Linked DNA regions of Homo sapiens: region 1 is linked to region 2. The links come from fine-mapping of genetic effects on gene expression. A gene starts in region 2. The other region holds a variant in brackets. All regions are shown on one strand. Distances are between the middles of the regions.

The links. PIP is the estimated chance that this variant, and not a neighbour inherited with it, causes the effect.
Region 1: its variant is fine-mapped to the expression of METTL8 in fibroblasts (GTEx, PIP 0.95).

What each region holds. Positions count from the first base shown.
Region 1 is chr2:171,642,116-171,650,866 of GRCh38, forward strand. No RefSeq gene overlaps it. Among named protein-coding and RNA genes, the nearest start is that of DYNC1I2, 41 kb to the right of the region's middle. The variant A/G (reference allele first, on the strand shown) is at 3,426.
Region 2 is chr2:171,430,175-171,438,925 of GRCh38, forward strand. It overlaps METTL8 (methyltransferase 8, tRNA N3-cytidine), which reads right to left and starts at 3,816. Exons shown (of 10, transcript NM_001321154.2): 1 at 3,709-3,816. DCAF17 (DDB1 and CUL4 associated factor 17) reads left to right here and starts at 4,052. Exons shown (of 14, transcript NM_025000.4): 1 at 4,052-4,529; 2 at 4,909-5,012. The coding sequence starts at 4,404. RefSeq lists enhancers at 3,050-3,219, 3,197-3,757, 3,430-3,499, 4,319-4,878 and a silencer at 3,810-4,719.

The DNA of each region.
Region 1 (8,751 bases), 210 kb after region 2:
TGTTGATGGGGTTGTTTTTTTCTTGTAAATTTGTTTGAGTTCATTGTAGATTCTGGATATTAGCCCTTTGTCAGATGAGTAGATTGCAAAAATTTTCTCCAATTCTGTAGGTTGCCTGTTCACTCTGATGGTAGTTTCTTTTGCTGTGCAGAAGCTCTTTAGTTTAATTAGATCCCATTTGTCAATTTTGGCTTTTGTTGCCATTGCTTTTTGTGTTTTAGACATGAAGTCCTTGCCCATGCCTATGTCCTGAATGGTATTGCCTAGGTTTTCTTCTAGGGTTTTTATGGTTTTAGATCTAACATGTAAGTCTTTAATCCATCTTGAATTAATTTTTATATAAGGTGTAAGGAAGGGATCCAGGTTCAGCTTTCTACCTATGGCTAGCCAGTTTTCCCAGCACCATTTATTAAATAGGGAATCCTTTCCCCATTGCTTGTTCTTCTCAGGTTTGTCAAAGATCAGATAGTTGTAGATATGTGGCATTATTTCTGAGGGCTCTGTTCTGTTCCATTGGTCTATATCTCTGTTTTGGTACCAGTACCATGCTGTTTTGGTTACTGTAGCCTTATAGTATAGTTTGAAGTCAGGTAGTGTGATGCCTCCAGCTTTGTTCTTTTTGCTTAGGATTGACTTGGCAATGCGGGCTCTTTTTTGGTTCCACATGAACTTTAAAGTAGTTTTTTCCAATTCTGTGAAGAAAGTCATTGGTAGCTTGATGGGGATGGCATTGAATCTATAAATTACCTTGGGCAGTATGGCCATTTTCACGACATTGATTCTTCCTACCCATGAGCATGGAATGTTCTTCCATTTGTTTGTATCCGCTTTTATTTCCTTGAGCAGTGGTTTGTAGTTCTCCTTGAAGAGGTCCTTCACATCCCGTGTAAGTTGGATTCCTAAGTATTTTATTCTCTTTGAAGCAATTGTGAATGGGAGTTCACTCATGATTTGGCTGTCTGTTTGTCTGTCATTGGTGTATAAGAATGCTTGTGATTTTTGTACATTGATTTTGTGTCTTGAGACTTTGCTGAAGTTGCTTATCAGCTTAAGGAGATTTTGGGCTGAGACAATGGGTTTTCTAGATATACAATCATGTCGTCTACAAACAGGGACAATTTGACTTCCTCTTTTCCTAATTGAATACCCTTTATTTCCTTCTCCTGCCTAATTGCCCTGGCCAGAACTTCCAATACTATGTTGAATAGAGTGGTGAGAGAGGGCATCCCTGTCTTGTGCCAGTTTTCAAAGGGAATGCTTCCAGTTTTTGCCCATTCAGTATGATATTGGCTGTGGGTTTGTCATAGACAGCTCTTATTATTTTGAGATACGTCCCATCAATACCTAATTTATTGAGAGTTTTTAGCATGAAGCGTTGTTGAATTTTGTCCAAGGCCTTTTCTGCATCTATTGAGATAATATGTGGTTTTTGTCTTTGGTTCTGTTTATATGCTGGATTACATTTATTTATTTGCGTATGTTGAACCTGCCTTGCATCCCAGGGATGAAGCCAACTTGGCCGTGGTGGATAAGCTTTTTGATGTGCTGCTGTATTCGGTTTGCCAGTATTTTATTGAGTATTTTTACGTCAATGTTCATCAGAGATATTGGTCTAAATTCTCTTTTTTGGTTGTGTCTCTGACAGGCTTTGTTATCAGGATGATGCTGGCCTCATAAAATGAATCAGGGAGGATTCCTTCTTTTTCTGTTGATTGGGATAGTTTCAGAAGGAATGGTACCAGCTCCTCCTTGTACCTCTGGTAGAATTCGGTTGTGAATCCATCTGGTCCTGGACTTTTTTTGGTTGGTAAGCTATTAATTATTGCCTCAATTTCCGAGCCTGTTATTGTTCTATTCAGAGATTCAACTTCTTCCTGGTTTAGTCTTGGGAGGGTGTATGCATCAAGGAATTTATCCATTTCTTCTAGATTTTCTAGTTTATTTGCATAGAGGTGTTTATAGTATTCTCTGATGGTAGTTTGTATTTCTGTGGGATTGGTGGTGATATCCCCTTTACCATTTTTTATTGCATCTGTTTGATTCTTCTCTCTTTTCTTCTTTATTAGTCTTGCTAGCAGTCTATCAATTTTGTTGATCTTTTCAAAAAGCCAGCTCTTGGATTCATTGATTTTTTGAAGGGTTTTTTGTGTCTCTATCTCCTTCAGTTCTGCTCTGATCTTAGTTATTTCTTGCCTTCTGCTAGCTTTTGCATGTGTTTGCTCTTGCTTCTCTAGTTCTTTTAATTGTGATGTTAGAGTGTCAATTTTAGATCTTTCCTGCTTTATCTTGTGGGCATTTAGTGCTATAAATTTCCCTCTACACACTGCTTTGAATGTGTCCCAGAGATTCTGGTATGTTGTGTTTTTGTTCTCGTTGGTTTCAAAGAGCATCTTTATTTCTGCCTTCATTTCATTACGTACCCAGTAGTCATTCAGGAACAGGTTGTTCAGTTTCCATGCAGTTGAGCGGTTTTGAGTGAGTTTCTTAATCCTGAGTTCTAGTTTGATTGCACTGTGGTCTGAGAGACAGTTTGTTATAATTTCTGTTCTTTTGCATTTGCTGAGGAGTGCTTTACTTCCAACTATGTGGTCAATTTTGTGAATAGGTGTAGTGTGGTGCTGAAAAGAATGTATATTTTGTTGATTTGGGGTGGAGAGTTCTGTAGATGTCTATTAGGTCTGCTTGGTGCAGACCTGAGTTCAATTCCTGGATATCGTTGTTAACTTTCTGTCTCATTGATCTGTCTAATGTTGACAGTGGGGTGTTAAAGTCTCCCATTATTATTGTGTGGGAGTCTAAGTCTCTTTGTAGGTCTCTAAGGACTTCTTTATAAATCTGGGTGCTCCTGTATTGGGTGCATATATATTTAGGATAGTTAGCTCTTCTTGTTGAATTGATCCCTTTACCATTATGTAATGGCCTTCTTTGTCTCTTTTGATCTTTGTTGGTTTAAAGTCTGTTTTATCTGAGACTAGGATTGCAACCCCTGCCTTTTTTTGTTTTCCATTTGCTTGGTAGATCTTCCTCCATCCCTTTATTTTGAGCCTAGGTGTGTCTCTGCACCTGAGATCGGTTTCCTGATACAGCACATTGATGGGTCTTGACTCTGTATCCAATTTGCCAGTCTGTGTCTTTTAATTGGAGCACTTAGCCTATTTACATTTAAGGTTAATATTGTTATGTGTGAATTTGATCCTGTCATTATGATGTTAGCTGGTTATTTTGCTCATTAGTTGATGCAGTTTCTTCCTAGCCTCGATGGTCTTTACAATTTGGCATGTTTTTGCAGTGGCTGGTACTGGTTGTTCCTTCCCATGTTTAGTGCTTCCTTCAGGAGCTCTTGTAAGGCAGGCCTGGTGGTGACAAAATCTCTCAGCATTTGCTTGTCTGTAAAGCATTTTATTTCTCCTTCACTTATGAAGCTT[A/G]GTTTGGCTGGATATGAAATTCTGGGTTGAAAATTCTTTTCTTTAAGAATGTTGAATATTGGCCCCAACTCTCTTCTGGCTTATAGAGTTTCTGCCAAGAGATCAGCTGTTAATCTGATGGGCTTCCCTTTGTGGGTAACCCGACCTTTCTCTCTGGCTGCCCTTAACATTTTTTCCTTCATTTAAACTTTGGTGAATCTGACAATTATGTGTCTTGGAGTTGCTCTTCTCCAGGAGTATCTTTGTGGCGTTCTCTGTATTTCCTGAATCTGAATATTGGCCTGCCTTGCTAGATTGGGGAAGTTCTCCTGGATAATATCCTGCAGAGTGTTTTCCAACTTGGTTCCATTCTCCCCGTCACTTTCAGGTACACCAATTAGACAAAGATTTGGTCGTTTCACATAGTCCCATTATTTCTTGGGGGCTTTGTTCGTTTCTTTTTATTCTTTTTTCTCTAAACTTCTCTTCTCGCTTCATTTCATTCATTTGATCTTCCATCACTGATACCCTTTCTTCCAGTTGATGGAATCGGCTACTGAGGCTTGTGCATTCATCATGTAGTTCTCGTGCCATGGTTTTCAGCTCCATCAGGTCCTTTAAGGACTTCCCTGCATTGGTTATTCTAGTTAGCCATTCGTCTAATCTTTTTTCAAGGTTTTTAACTTCTTTGCAATGGGTTCGAACTTCCTCCTTTAGCTTGGAGTAGTTTGATCGTCTGAAGCCTTCTTCTCTCAACTCGTCAAAGTCATTCTCTGTCCAGCTTTGTTCTGTTGCTGGTGAGGAGCTGCATTCCTTTGGAGGAAGAGAGGCGCTCTGCTTTTTAGAATTTTCAGTTTTTCTGCTCTGTTTTTTCCCCATCTTTGTGGTTTTATCTACCTTTGGTCCTTGATGATGGTGACGTACAGATGGGGTTTTTGTGTGGATGTCCTTTCTGTTAGTTTTCCTTCTAACAGTCAGGACCCTCAGTTGCAGGTCTGTGGAGTTTGCTGGAGGTCCACTCCAGATCCTGTTTGTCTGGGTATCAGCAGCAGAGGCTGCAGAACAGTGGATATTGGTGAACAGCAAATGTTGCTGCCTGATCGTTCCTCTGAAAGCTTCATCTCAGAGGGGTACCTGGCCATGTGAGCTGTCATTCTGCCCCTACTGGGTGTGCCTCCCAGTTAGGCTACTCAGGGGTCAGGGACCCATTTGAGGAGGCAGTCTGTCCATTCTCAGATCTCAAGCTGCATGGTGGGAGAACCACTACTCTCTTCAAAGCTGTCAGACAAGGACATTTAAGTCTGCAGAGGTTTCTGCTACCTTTTGTTTGGCTATGACCTGACCCCAGAGGTGGAGTCTATAGAGGCAGGCAGGCTTCCTTGAGCTGCAGTGGGCTCCACCCAGTTCAAGCTTCCTGGCTGCTTTGTTTACCTACTCAAGCCTCAGCAATGGTGGGTGCCCCTCCCCCAGCCTCGCTGCCGCCTTGCAGTTTGATCTCAGACTGCTGTGCTAGCAATGAGTGAGGCTCCATGGGTATAGGACCCTCCGAGCCAGGCGCAGGATACAATCTCGTGGTGTGCCATTTGCTAAGACTATTGGAAAAGCGCAGTATTAGGGTGGGAGTGACCCAATTTTCCAGGTGCCGTCTGTCACCCCTTTCCTTGGCAAGGAAAGGGAGCTCCCTGACCCCTTGCACTTCCCGGGTGAGGCAAGGCCTCGCCCTGCTTCAGCTCACACTTGGTGCACTGCACCCACTGTCCTGCACCCACTGTCTGACAGTCCCCAGTGAGATGAACCTGGTACCTCAGTTGGAAATGCAGAAATCATTCGTCTTCTGCATCGCTCACACTGGGAGGTGTAGACTGGAGCTGTTCCTATTCGGCCATTTTGGCTCCACCCCTCGATTTTTTTATTTTTCTGTTTCTTTTTTTTTTTTTTTTTTTTGAGACAGAGTCTCACTCTGCCACCCAGGCTGGAATGCAGTGGCACCATCTCGGCTCACTGCAAGCCCCGCCTCCTGGATTCATGCCATTCTCCTGCCTCAGCCTCCCAAGTAGCTGGGACTACAGGTGCCCACCACCACACCTGGCTTATATTTTGTATTTTTTTGTAAAGACAGGGTTTCACCATGATAGCCAGGATGGTCTCGATCTCCTGACCTCGTGATCCGCCCACCTCAGCCTCCCAAAGTGCTGGGATTACAGGCGTGAGCCACCGGGCCCAGCCTATTTTTCTATTTCTGTGAAGAATGTCATGATATTTTGGTAGGGATTGCATTGAATCTGTAGATTGCTTCGAGGAGTAGGAACATTTTAGCAATATTGATCCTTCCAAACCGTTTTCATTTTTTTGTGTTCTCTTCAATTTATTGCATTAATGTGTTATGGTTTTCATGGTACAAATCTTTCACTTCTTTGGTGAAGTTCATTTACAGGTATTTTATTTTATTTGTATATATTGTAAATGAGATTATTTTCTTGATATCTTTTTCATATTGTTTGCTAATGGCATATGGAAAATGCTACTGATTTTTGTATGTTGATTTTGTGTACTGCAACTTTACTGAATTTGTTTATCAGTTCTAATAGTTTTTTTGGCAGAACCTTTAGGTTTTTCCAAATATAAGCTTATATCATCTGCAAACAAGGATAATTTGACTTCTTCCTTTTCAGTTTGGATGTTCTTTATTTCTTTCTCTTGTCTGATTGCTGTAGCAAGGACTTCCATTACTATGCTGAATAACAGTGGTGACAGTGGGCATCTTTGTTGTGTCCCAGATCTTACAGGAAAGACTTTCAGCTTTTGCCCATTCAGTATGATACTAGCTGTGGATCTACCGTATATGGCCTTTTTGTGTTGTGGTGTGTTCCTTCTATACTCAAGTTTTTGAGGGTTTTTATCATGAAGGGATATTGAATTTGATCAAATGCTTTTTCAGCATCAATTGAAATGATTATATGGTTTTTGTCCTTCATTCTGGACATATGATTTATCAGGTTGATTGATTATATATGTTAACCATCCTTGCATTGCTGGGATAAATCCCACTTGGTCATGATGAATGATGTTTTTAATATGCTGTTGAATTTGGTTTGCTAGTATTTTGTTGAGGATTTTTGAATCAATATTCATAAGGGATATTGGCCTGTAGTTTTTTTTTTTTTTAACCTGTCCTTGTCTGGTTTTGGTGTCAGAGTAATGCTGGCCTCATAGAATGAGTCTGGAAATGTTTTCTCCTCCTCCTCTATTTTTTGGAATAGTTTGAGTAGGACTGGTATTGGTTCTTCTCTAAATTTCTCACAATAATCAGCAGTGAAAACATGGGATCCTGGACTTTGCTTAGAGATCTTTTATTATGGCTTCAATATCATTACTCATTACTGGTCTGTTCAGGTGTTGAATTTCTTCATGGTTCAATCTTTGTAGGTTGTATGTATCTATGAGTTTATCCAGTTCTTCTAGGTTTTCTAATTTATTGGCATACAGTTACTCAAAGTAGCCTCCATTGATCCTTTGAATTTCTGCAGTATCAGTTGTAATGTCTTCTTTTTCATTTCTGATTTTATTTATTGTGTCTTCTCTCTTTTTTTCTTAATTAATCTGGCTAAAGGTTTGCCAATTTTGTTTATCTTTTCAAAAAAACAACTTTTCATTTCACTGATCTTCTGTATTATTTATTGTTTCAATTTCATTTATTTCTGCTCTGATCTTTATTATTTCTTTCCTTCTACTTATTTTGGGTTTTGTTTGCTCTTGCATTTTGAGTTCTTTAGGATGCATCAATAGGTTGTTTATTTGAAGTTTTTGTACTGTTTTGATGTAGCCACTTGCTGCTATAAGCTTGGCTCTTAGTACTGCTTTTGCTGTATCTCATAGGTTTTGGTATGTTGTGTTTCCATTATCATTTGCTTCAAGAAAATTTTAAATTTTCTTAATTTCTTCATTGACTCACTGGTCATTCAGGAGTATAGTGTTTATTTTTCATGTGTTTGAATACTTTCCAAAATTTCTCTTGTTATTGATTTCCAGTTTTATTCCATTGTGGTCAGAGAAGATGCTTGATATTATTTCAATTCTTTGAATGTTTTAAGACTTGTTTTGTAGTCTAAGATATGATCTATTCTTGAGAATGATCCACGTGCTGAGGAAAGGAGTGTATATTCTGCAGCCATTGTATGAAATGTTCTGTAATATCTGTTAGGTCCATTTGCTCTATAGTGCAGATTAAGTCCAATGTTTCTTTGTTGATTTTCTGTCTGGCAGATTTGTCCAATGCTGAAAGTAGGATGTTGTGGTCTCCAGCTCTTACTGTTTGGGGTCTATCTCTCTCTCTTTTGCTCTAATAATATTTGTTTTCTATATCTGGGTGTTCCAGTGTTGGGTGCATATATACTCACAGTTGTTATATCCTCTTGAAGAATCAATCCCTTTATCATTATATAAAGGCTTTCTTTGCCTCTTTTTATAGTTTCTGTCTTGAAGTCTATTTTGTCTGATATAAATACAGCTACCCCTGCTCTTTTTTGGTTTCCATTGGCATGGAAAATCTTTTCCATTCCTTTATTTTCAGTCTATGCCTGGCTTTTGTTTGTTTGTTTGTTTGTTTATTTTTGAGACAGGGTCTCACTCTGCCCAAGCTAGAGTACAGTGTCATGATCTCAGCTCACTGCAGCCTCCACCTCCTGGGTTCAAGCAATCCTCCCACCTCAGCCTCCTGAATAACTGGAACTATAGGCACGCACCACATGCCCAGCTAATTTTTGTATTTTTAGTGGAGATGGGGTTTCACTATGTTGCCCAGGCTGGTCACAAACTTACATCCAACGTTATTGGTAGGTAAGAACTTACTCCTGCCATTTTGTTATTTGTTTTCTGGTTGTTTTGTGGATTTCTCTTCCTTCTTTCCTATCTTCCTTTAAGTGGAGGTAATTTTCTCTGGTTATATGTTTTAACTTCTTGGTTTTTATTTTTTTGTGTGTCTGTTGTATTTTTTTTTATTTGAGGGTACCATGAAGCTTGCAAATAATGTCTTATAACCTATTATTTAAACTGATGACACTGATTGCATAAACAAATTAACAAACAAGTAAAGAGACAACTAATTAAAACTCTACACTTTAACTTCATCCCTCTGCTTTTTAAGTTTTGGTTGTTTCTATTTACATATTATTATTCTATGTCTAGAAAAGTTATTGTAATTATTATATCTGATAGTTCCATTTTTTAGTCTTTCTATTCAAAATATGAGTAGTTTACACCGACAATTACAGTGTTATAATAGTCTGTGTTTTTCTGTGTGCTTACTATTATCAGTGAGTTTTGTGTCTTCAGATGATTTCTTATTGCT
Region 2 (8,751 bases):
TGGTGAAACCCCGTCTCTACTAAAAATATTAAAATTAGCCAGGGATGGTGGTGTGCGCCTGTAATGCCAGCAACTGGGGAGGCTGAGGCAGGAGAATCACTTGAACCTGGGAGGTGGAGGCTGCAGTGAGCCGAGATAGCCCCACCGCACTCCAGCCTGGACAACAGAGCAAGACTCCATCTCAAAAACAAAAAACAAAAAAAAAAGGGAGCCTGTCTAGGGGCTAGGGGAGGGATAGCATTAGGAGAAATACTTAATGTAGGTGACGGGTTGATGGGTGCAGCAAATCACGATGGCACATGTATACCTATATAACAAAACTGCACGTTCTACACATGTACCCCAGAACTTACAGTATAATAAAAATAAATAAATAAATAAGAAATTCTGCTATGGGTGTTCGGAGCTGCTGAAAGAATGCAACAGGCAAGTGACAGCTTGTGCTTTAGGAAAATCACTCTGGCAGCAGTATGGAGGAGGGCTGGAATTAAAAGTACCCAAGTGATAGCAGCAGGAGGCAGACAAATCCTAGGCAGATGGGGGTGGGTCCCCAGTGAAACCTGACCTTCAAGCTGAAGACAGCTTAAAGCCTAGCTACATGTCCTGGATAAATCTATGGACCAGATCGAGAACCTCTCTTCCCATTTGGTGCACTTTCCTCTGATTGATCCCCACCCTTCACCTATTTTACATATACCCACCCTTCTCTAATTTGTTTTTTCACACTGTTGTGCCCACCTTTGAGTGGTGCCTTTGTTTTAGCCTATTTTGCATACTCACAAACCAATCAGCATGCACTTCCCCATTCTGAGCCCATAAAAGCCCCAGACCCAGCCATGCCAGAAGAGAGGCCAAACTACTTTGGGTGGGGGACCACCCTTGCGTCCCCTCTTGGCTGAGAATGAAAGGAGTTAGCCAGCTTGCTTTAGGCAGACAGTAAGGGAAGCGTCCCTGAAGAACCTACGACGTGCCCCAAAAGTGCTTACACCAGATGTTTTGTGCACATAAGGGAATTTGCACAGGGGGCTTGCCTAAACATGCCCACAATAGAAAATTCCATTCCCTAACACATGTGCAGTAAGGGAAATAACCAATATGGAGTAGCTCAGACTAAGGGCCCACGAGCACACTGGAAGGATGGGGTGGAGCCTCCAGAAATTTGCACCTTAAGCCCAGGTATTCAACTGTAAAGGGGGCAACCAGCAACCTGCTTTCAGGACCCCTTTCTTTACTGGGAGCTTTCCTTTCACTAAATAAATTCTACTCCACTCACTCTCCGGGGTCCACACACCTAATTCTTACTGATTGTGAGACAAAAACTCAGACCTAGCTGAGCTAAGAGCAAAAATCCTGCATCAAGAGCTGTTTTGTTGCTCAATAAAACTCTTCTCTGTCCTCCTCACCCTCCGATTGTTAGTGTAATCTCATTCTTGGACACAGGACAAGAGCTCAGGATGCCACCAAACATGGGTAGGAAGAAGAGAGTAACACGGTAGCTCTCTGCCCCACCAGCAGCGCCTGGTAGCCACCCTATGCAACAAGAAGCAGGGCGGGGGGCCAGGCCAGCCCCAGGGCCATGGGCGGGAGTGGGGTAACAGGACTGATAGGGCTGTTAACATGCCCCTGTTCGTCAGGCTGCAGAGGGCAGATCTAAAAGAGCTGTTAGCATGCTGTAACACCCACCTCTGGGGCTTCTGGGTTGCCTGACCCATTTGGTTACCACCACCTTCCCCTAGTCTGGACTCCAGAGCCCACTGTGGGAGTCACTTGTGACATGCCTGGTCCAGCCGCAAGCGGTGCACGGAGCCAGCTCCTGTGCCGGCACTTGGAGCAACCAGCTGGATACCACACAACTCTGCACTCACCAGCTCAGACACCCTCTCCTGCCAGGGGCTGAGCCCACAGTCAGGTGGCCACAGGATCCACACCTGCGTGCAAGCCAGGAGTGGCCCAGTGGGCCAGTTGTGCAGGGCACCTCCTGTGGCAAGCCCAGCCCGAGCAAGGCCTGGGTAGGTCTCCAGCTGCGGAGGTCTCCAGTGGCAAAGCAACGTCAAAAAAAAAAAATCCTGTGTCACAAGTAAGGCAGAAATTAAGAGACTACTTAATAATGTGATAAAAAATGGTGAGGCCCTAAATTACTTAGGTGAAATGAAGATGAGATGGATAAGAGTCTAAAGGACTTGGTTGTGGGTGAGGAACAGCAAGGCATCCAGGATGACTCTCCCTTGGTGACGACTTGGTGGTGAAATAAAGGCCACAAGAAAGAAGACAAACAAGTGGGGGCAAAGAGGAAAGAGAAATGAGAGAGTTGATGAATTCAATTCAGAAATGATTTGAATTTCATTTAAGCCAAAGAAAACCCAGTTATCTTTTCTGGGTTCCAGTTTTCTCAGTGACAGCTGCATTCATGAATTACCAAATTAACTATTGTAGCACTCTCTAAAAATATACAAAGCACTCTACCGTATGCTGTAAATAAGTCATGAAAAATCAGCAAAAGCTCGAGCCCTGAAGGAAATTCAGCAGGGTTAAAAAGAGATATGGCCAATGTTTACTAAACACTTAAACTGTGACCCAACACACTCACCCAGTACTGTAAGTACTCACTTAATGTCATCAACAGATTTTTGGAAACTGACTGTAAGCAAAATGACATATAACAAAACCATTTTTACCATAGGCCAATTGATATAAACAAAAGTTAAGTTCCTATAACATATTTCTGGTCACAAAAACATCACCAAACTCCTAAATACAAACCAAAACACTTCTAATATTAAACATTGAAATAAATGGGAGCTATACATACATTTAAGGAAGATTAATAAAAACAAGTAAGATAGTTATTTACCTAATTATTCCAGTTCAGGGTCGAGGGTGGCTGAAGCCTATCCCCTCAGCTCAGGGTGCAAGGTGGGAACCAACCCTTGGACACGACGACATTCCATCGCAGGGAGCACTCACACTCACACTCAGACAGGAAACACAGACAAGGCCAATTCATCCAGCCTGCACTGAGATGTGGGAGGCAGTACCCTGGGGTACCTGGTGAAAACCCATGCAGACGTGGGGAGAAGGGGCAAGATCCACACAAACAGTAGCCCCGGTAGGAAATTATTATTTTTTCTCATCAAGTTATACAAAATGACACTGAACGAAAAAATGCGATTCAAGGACCTGCTGTACTGTACTTTTTGCTCTGCCAGTCAGGTGCGATCGCTGGCTTTCTTTGAGCACCTATGAACAAGAGGTAGCATGCCCAAGTCCACGTGGGAGATACAGCGGCCCCACCCTTAAGGGACTTAGAGCATGGCGGTGGGACACATGTGGTGCAAGCTTGCTGAAAGTTTAGTGTGCTGGGAACTTTGAACATACAGGCAGGGCTAGTTAACAAAGTATATCTTTTACTTAGAGACATCGACGAGGAATATCTTAGGCCGTCCAATAAGAATGTAAGCATTTCATATTTTATTCCCTATAAAGAAAAAAGAATGGAGGCGAGAGGAAATGAAATGAAGCAATTATCGCAAAACCAGTCAGTGTCCCCGCAGGCCACCCAAGGACAAGCCTCCGGGAAAGAGTAACTCAATCCCAGTTTGGAGGGTGAAACTAAGAGTGAATGGGAAGCCAGCATCTTCCTAATACAAAAGCACAGTTTACCGTCCCCCTCAGCCAACATGCGGCTGAAGGGAAAGCCGCGGGGCGTACCTTTAGCACGGGACGCTGCTTTGGGGGGATCGCCCTCGACACAGCGCCCCTCCCGGCACCTGGCCAGAACCTCCCAGGGCGAAGGTCGGGGCCGAGAAGCTTGTGAGTACCGGGGCAGTGAGGGAGGGATCCCTAAGTGCAGGGCGCACACACGGGGCGGAGACCTGGAGGCGGCAGCACCGCGCCCCCAGGGCTCTGCCCAGCTAGCCACTCGCAGCACAGAGAAGCGCGCCCGCAAGACAGCGCAGCCTCCGCGGGCCGGAGGAGGCGGGGCCGCGGCAGGCAGAGGCAGGGCCGGGCAAGCCCTCGCTCCCCGCCGCCTGACGGGAATTGTAGTTCCTGGGAGAAGCCGGGCTGCCTCACGAGGCACTAGGAACTACATTTCCCGGTGAGAGAGCGGCTCCGGCCGGCCGCGCGGTACCGGAGCGTCGCACTGTCAGCGGCCAGAGAGCCTGGGGCAGATCGAAAAGGGAGTGCTTCTTCCCTTCTCTCCGCGCTCTGGCGGTGCAAGCGGCTCTGCTTTCCCTCGCCCCGCCGTCGGGTGCTCCCTGCCCGCCTCCCCGTGTCAGCTTTCCCTGGGCCCCGCCGGGAAAGTCTGGGCCTCGAAATTCGAAGGCAGCGGCGGCTGCCCAGCACGGGAGTGTGGGGCGCGCCACTCGGCGGCCCAGCCTACCCAGGGCCCGGCCCGCGCCTCCATGGGCCCGACCCGGAAGCCCAACGTGTGCAGCCGGCTGAGTCGCCGGGCGCTGGGCTGCTTCTCGCGCGACGCAGGCGTGGTGCAGAGGACCAACCTGGGCATCCTGCGGGCGCTGGTGTGCCAGGTGACCGCCAGCCGGCCGGGGCGGGACGGAGGGCCGCGGGCGCGCGGCGGCCGAGCCTCCTGCGGGGATGCGGTTTTAACGCGCTGGGGCCTCCCTTTATAGGGTCACATGTGATGGGGAGGAGGATACAAGCCCGGAATCTGGGATAGGTGGTAATAGGGCCACCAGCTGCTTTTAGTTTTACGCTTCTTATGTCTTACCTGGAAACAATTATTCTAAAAGTTGGTCACCTCATTAAGCCAAAACATGAGGGCAGAGTGGAGGAAGGATGCAAAAAGTTTTAAAATAATATAGGTGACATTATGTTGCTTTGAAAATTTAAAATCTAACTTAAAGCCTAAGAGTTCTTTCCTGAACGGAAATTCTTTATGTCTTTTAGGAAAGTACTAAATTTAAGAATGTCTGGACAACTCATTCCAGGTCACCTATAGCCTATGAGAGAGGAAGAATATATTTTGACAATTATCGGCGCTGTGTCAGCAGGTAACTTTTTATTGATAATTTTGCTGTAATTCACCTCACTGTTGATCTTAACTATAATTTGTATAGAACCACATGCCTACATTAGTGCCTAGTGAAATAGAATGAAAAAAATGGGTCCGAAATAAGACTAGGCAGTAAAAAATGCATGTAATTTTAAAATCTTGTTAAATCTAAAGTTGCAGGTGTCATTTTTGTAAATACCAACTTAAAGCAAAACTACAGTGCAGGCAAAACCACAGATTGTTCAGAGTACTGTTTAGTGTTTAGTCTACTTATACCACAGTCAAGAAATCCAGTTGCCAATCAAATAATTAGATGCTGCTTTGGAGAATTGATGGATTGTGTTTTGGAAGTACTTGCCTTTTTTTTTTTTTTTTAGAGAAATTTTTTCAAACAAAAGCCTAGTATTTAGAGATCCAAAATGTTTAACAGTCAGCCTCATCCACAACTGTCCAACATGAGGGGGGAAGGAAAGCCACAATGCATCCCCATATACTCATTACCCAGATTCAAAAACTATCAAGATTTGCCACATTTGCTTTATCTAACCCACTTTTCCTTTTGCATGACCTCTTTTAAAGCATATTCTAAACATACATCAGTTTGCATTTTTAAAAAAATGAGCTTTTTTTATAGGCTTTATTAGGATATAATTCACATACCATATATTTACCCATTTAAAGTGTACAGTTCAATAATATTTAATGCATTCACAGATACATGTAATCACTACCACAGTTAATTTTAGAGCATTTTCATCACTTCAAAACAGAACCATGTACCTTTAAGCAGTCACCTCAGTACCACCATTACCCTCAGCCCTAAGCAACCACTAGTCTGTTTTCTGTCTGTAGATTCACCTATTCTGTACTTTTCATATAAATGGAATCATATAATATATGGTCTTTTGTAACTGGCTTTTTCACTTTGCGTGTTTTCAAGGTTCATCCATGTTGTCACATGCATCAGAATTCCTTTATAAAGTTGAATAATATTGCATTGTATCAATTACCACATTTTACGTATCCGTTTATCAGTTGTTAGACATTGGTGTTTCTACCTTTTAGCTATTATAAATAATGCTGCTATAAACATTTCCATGTAAGTTTTTATGTGGGCATTTATTTTCACTTCTCCTAGATTATACCTAGGAATGGAATTGGTAGGTCATAAGATTATACTGTAACTGCGTTTAATAGTTAGAAGAACTGCCATACACTTTTCTAAAGTGGTAGTACCATTTTATGTTCCCATAAGCAGTATATGAGGGTTCTGATTTTTCCACATTCTTGTCAACACTTGATGTGTGACTCACAGCATCTCACTGTGGTTTTGATTCCATTTTCCTGATGACTAGTGATGTCAGGCATCTTTTCTTGTGCATATTAGCCATTTGTATGTTATTCTTTGGAGAAATGTTTGGTTAGATATTTTGCCCACTTGTAAATTTTTTTTTTTTTTTTTACAAAAATCCTTACATATTTTAGATACAAGTCCCTTATCAGATATATGATTTCAAATACTTTCTCCCATTGTGTAGATTGTCTTTTTACTTTCCTGATGTTATTGTTTGAAACAGAGAGGTTAATTTTTTTTTTTTTTTTTGAGACAGAGTTTTGCTCTTGTTGCCCAGGCTGGAGTGCAATGGCGTGATCTCGGCTCACTGCAGTCTCCACCTTCCGGGTTCAGGTGATTCTCCTGCCTCAGCCTCCCGAGTAGCTGGGACTACAGGCATGCGCCACCACGCCTGGCTAATTTTGTATTTTTGGTAGAGACCGGGTTTCTCCATGTTGGTCAGGCTGGTCTCGAACGCCCAGCTTCAGGTGATCCGGCCACCTCGGCCTCCCAAAGTGCTGGGATTACAGGCATGAGCCACCGCGTCCAGCCACAGAGAGGTTAATTTTGATGAAGTCCAATTTATCTAAATTTTTTTCATTACTCATGCTTTTGGTGCCATATCTAAGAATCCATTGCAAAATTTGAGGTCATTAAGATTTGCTCCTAGGTTTTTTTCTAAAGGGTTTATAGTTTTAGCTCATATTTAGGTGGTTGATCCACTTTGAGTTAATTTTAGTATAGGGTATAAGGTAGGTATCCAACTCCATTTTTTTTAACATGCAGCTATACATTTGTCCTAGCACCATTTATTAGAAAGACTTTTCTTTCTTCATTGCAAGGCCTTGCCACCCTTGTCAAAAATCAATTGACCATAGACACTTTTGGATTTATTTCCGGACGTTCAAGTCTGTTCCACTGATCTGTATGTCTGTCCTTATGTCAATACCACATTGTCTTGATCACTGCTGCTGTGTTATTTCTTCTTTAAATGCTTGGTGGAATTAACCATTGAAAGCATCTGGGCTTGGCACTTTCTGTTTTGGTAGGTTGTTCATTATTGATTACATTTCTTTAATAGATACAGACTTATTCAAGTTATCTAATTCTCCTTGGGTAAATTTTGATAGATGGTGTCTTTCAAGGAATTCATCTAAGTTATCCAAACTTGTGAGCCTAGACTTATTCATAATATTTCTTTATTATTGTTTTAACGTCCATGAGATCGGTAGTGATAGCCACTCTTTAATTTCTCATATTAGTAATCAATTTTGTTGACCTTTTCAAAAAAACAGCTTTTGGTTTTGTTGATTTTCTCTATTGATTTTTGGTTTTCAATTTTACTACTTTCTGAGCTAATTTTTGTTATTTCTTTGCTTACTTTGGATTTAATTTGCTCTTCTTTTACTAGTTTCCTAAGGTAGAAACTTAGATTACGATTTGAAGTCTTTCTCCTTTTCTGCATATGCACTTACTGCTATACCTTTTCCTCTAAGCATTGTTTTTGTTGCATCCCACAAATGTTGATACGTTGTATGTGCATTTTCATTTAGTTCAGAATATTTTTAAATTTCTCCTGGGACTTCTTTGACCCATGTGTTATTTAGATGTGTGTTGTTCACTCTCCAAATATATTGGGATTTTCCAGTTATCATTGTTTTATTGATTTGTGGTTTAATACCACTATGACCCAAGAGCATACTTTATATTAGTTCTAGTCTTTTAAATTTGTTAAGGTGTCTTTTATGGCTCAGAATGTGGTCTACCTTGGTGAACGTTTCGTGTAAGCTTGAGAAGAATGTGTATTCTGCTGTCGTTGGATGAGATATTCTGTTTGATCCAGTTGACTGATGGTACCTTTCAGTTTAAGTATATGCATAATTACTAACTTTCTGCCAGCTGGATGTGTTAATTACTGATGGGTATTGAAATCTCTATAATAGTGAGTGGATTTATCTATTTCTCCTTGCATTTCTATCCGTGTTTGCCACATTGTGTTTTGATACTCTGTTGTTAGATGCATATGTATTAAATATTGTTATGCCTTCTTGGAGAATTGACACCTTTTTCATTATCTTATGCCCACTTAATCCCTGGTAATGTTCCTTGCCAAATTCGACTTTGTCTGAAATTAGTATAGCTACTCCAGCTTTCTTTTGTTTAGTGTTTACACATTGTATCTTTTGCCATTCCTTTACTTTTAATCTATCTGTGCCTTTTTTTTTCCCCCCCAAAGTCAGGGTCTGGCTGTGTCTCCCAGGCTGGAGTGCAGTGGCACAATCATAGCTCACTGTAACACCAAACTCCTGGACTGAAGCAATCCGACCATCTCAGCCTCCCAAGTAGCTAGGACTATAGGCATGTGGCTATTTTTAAAACAATTTTTTTAGAGATAGGGGTCTCA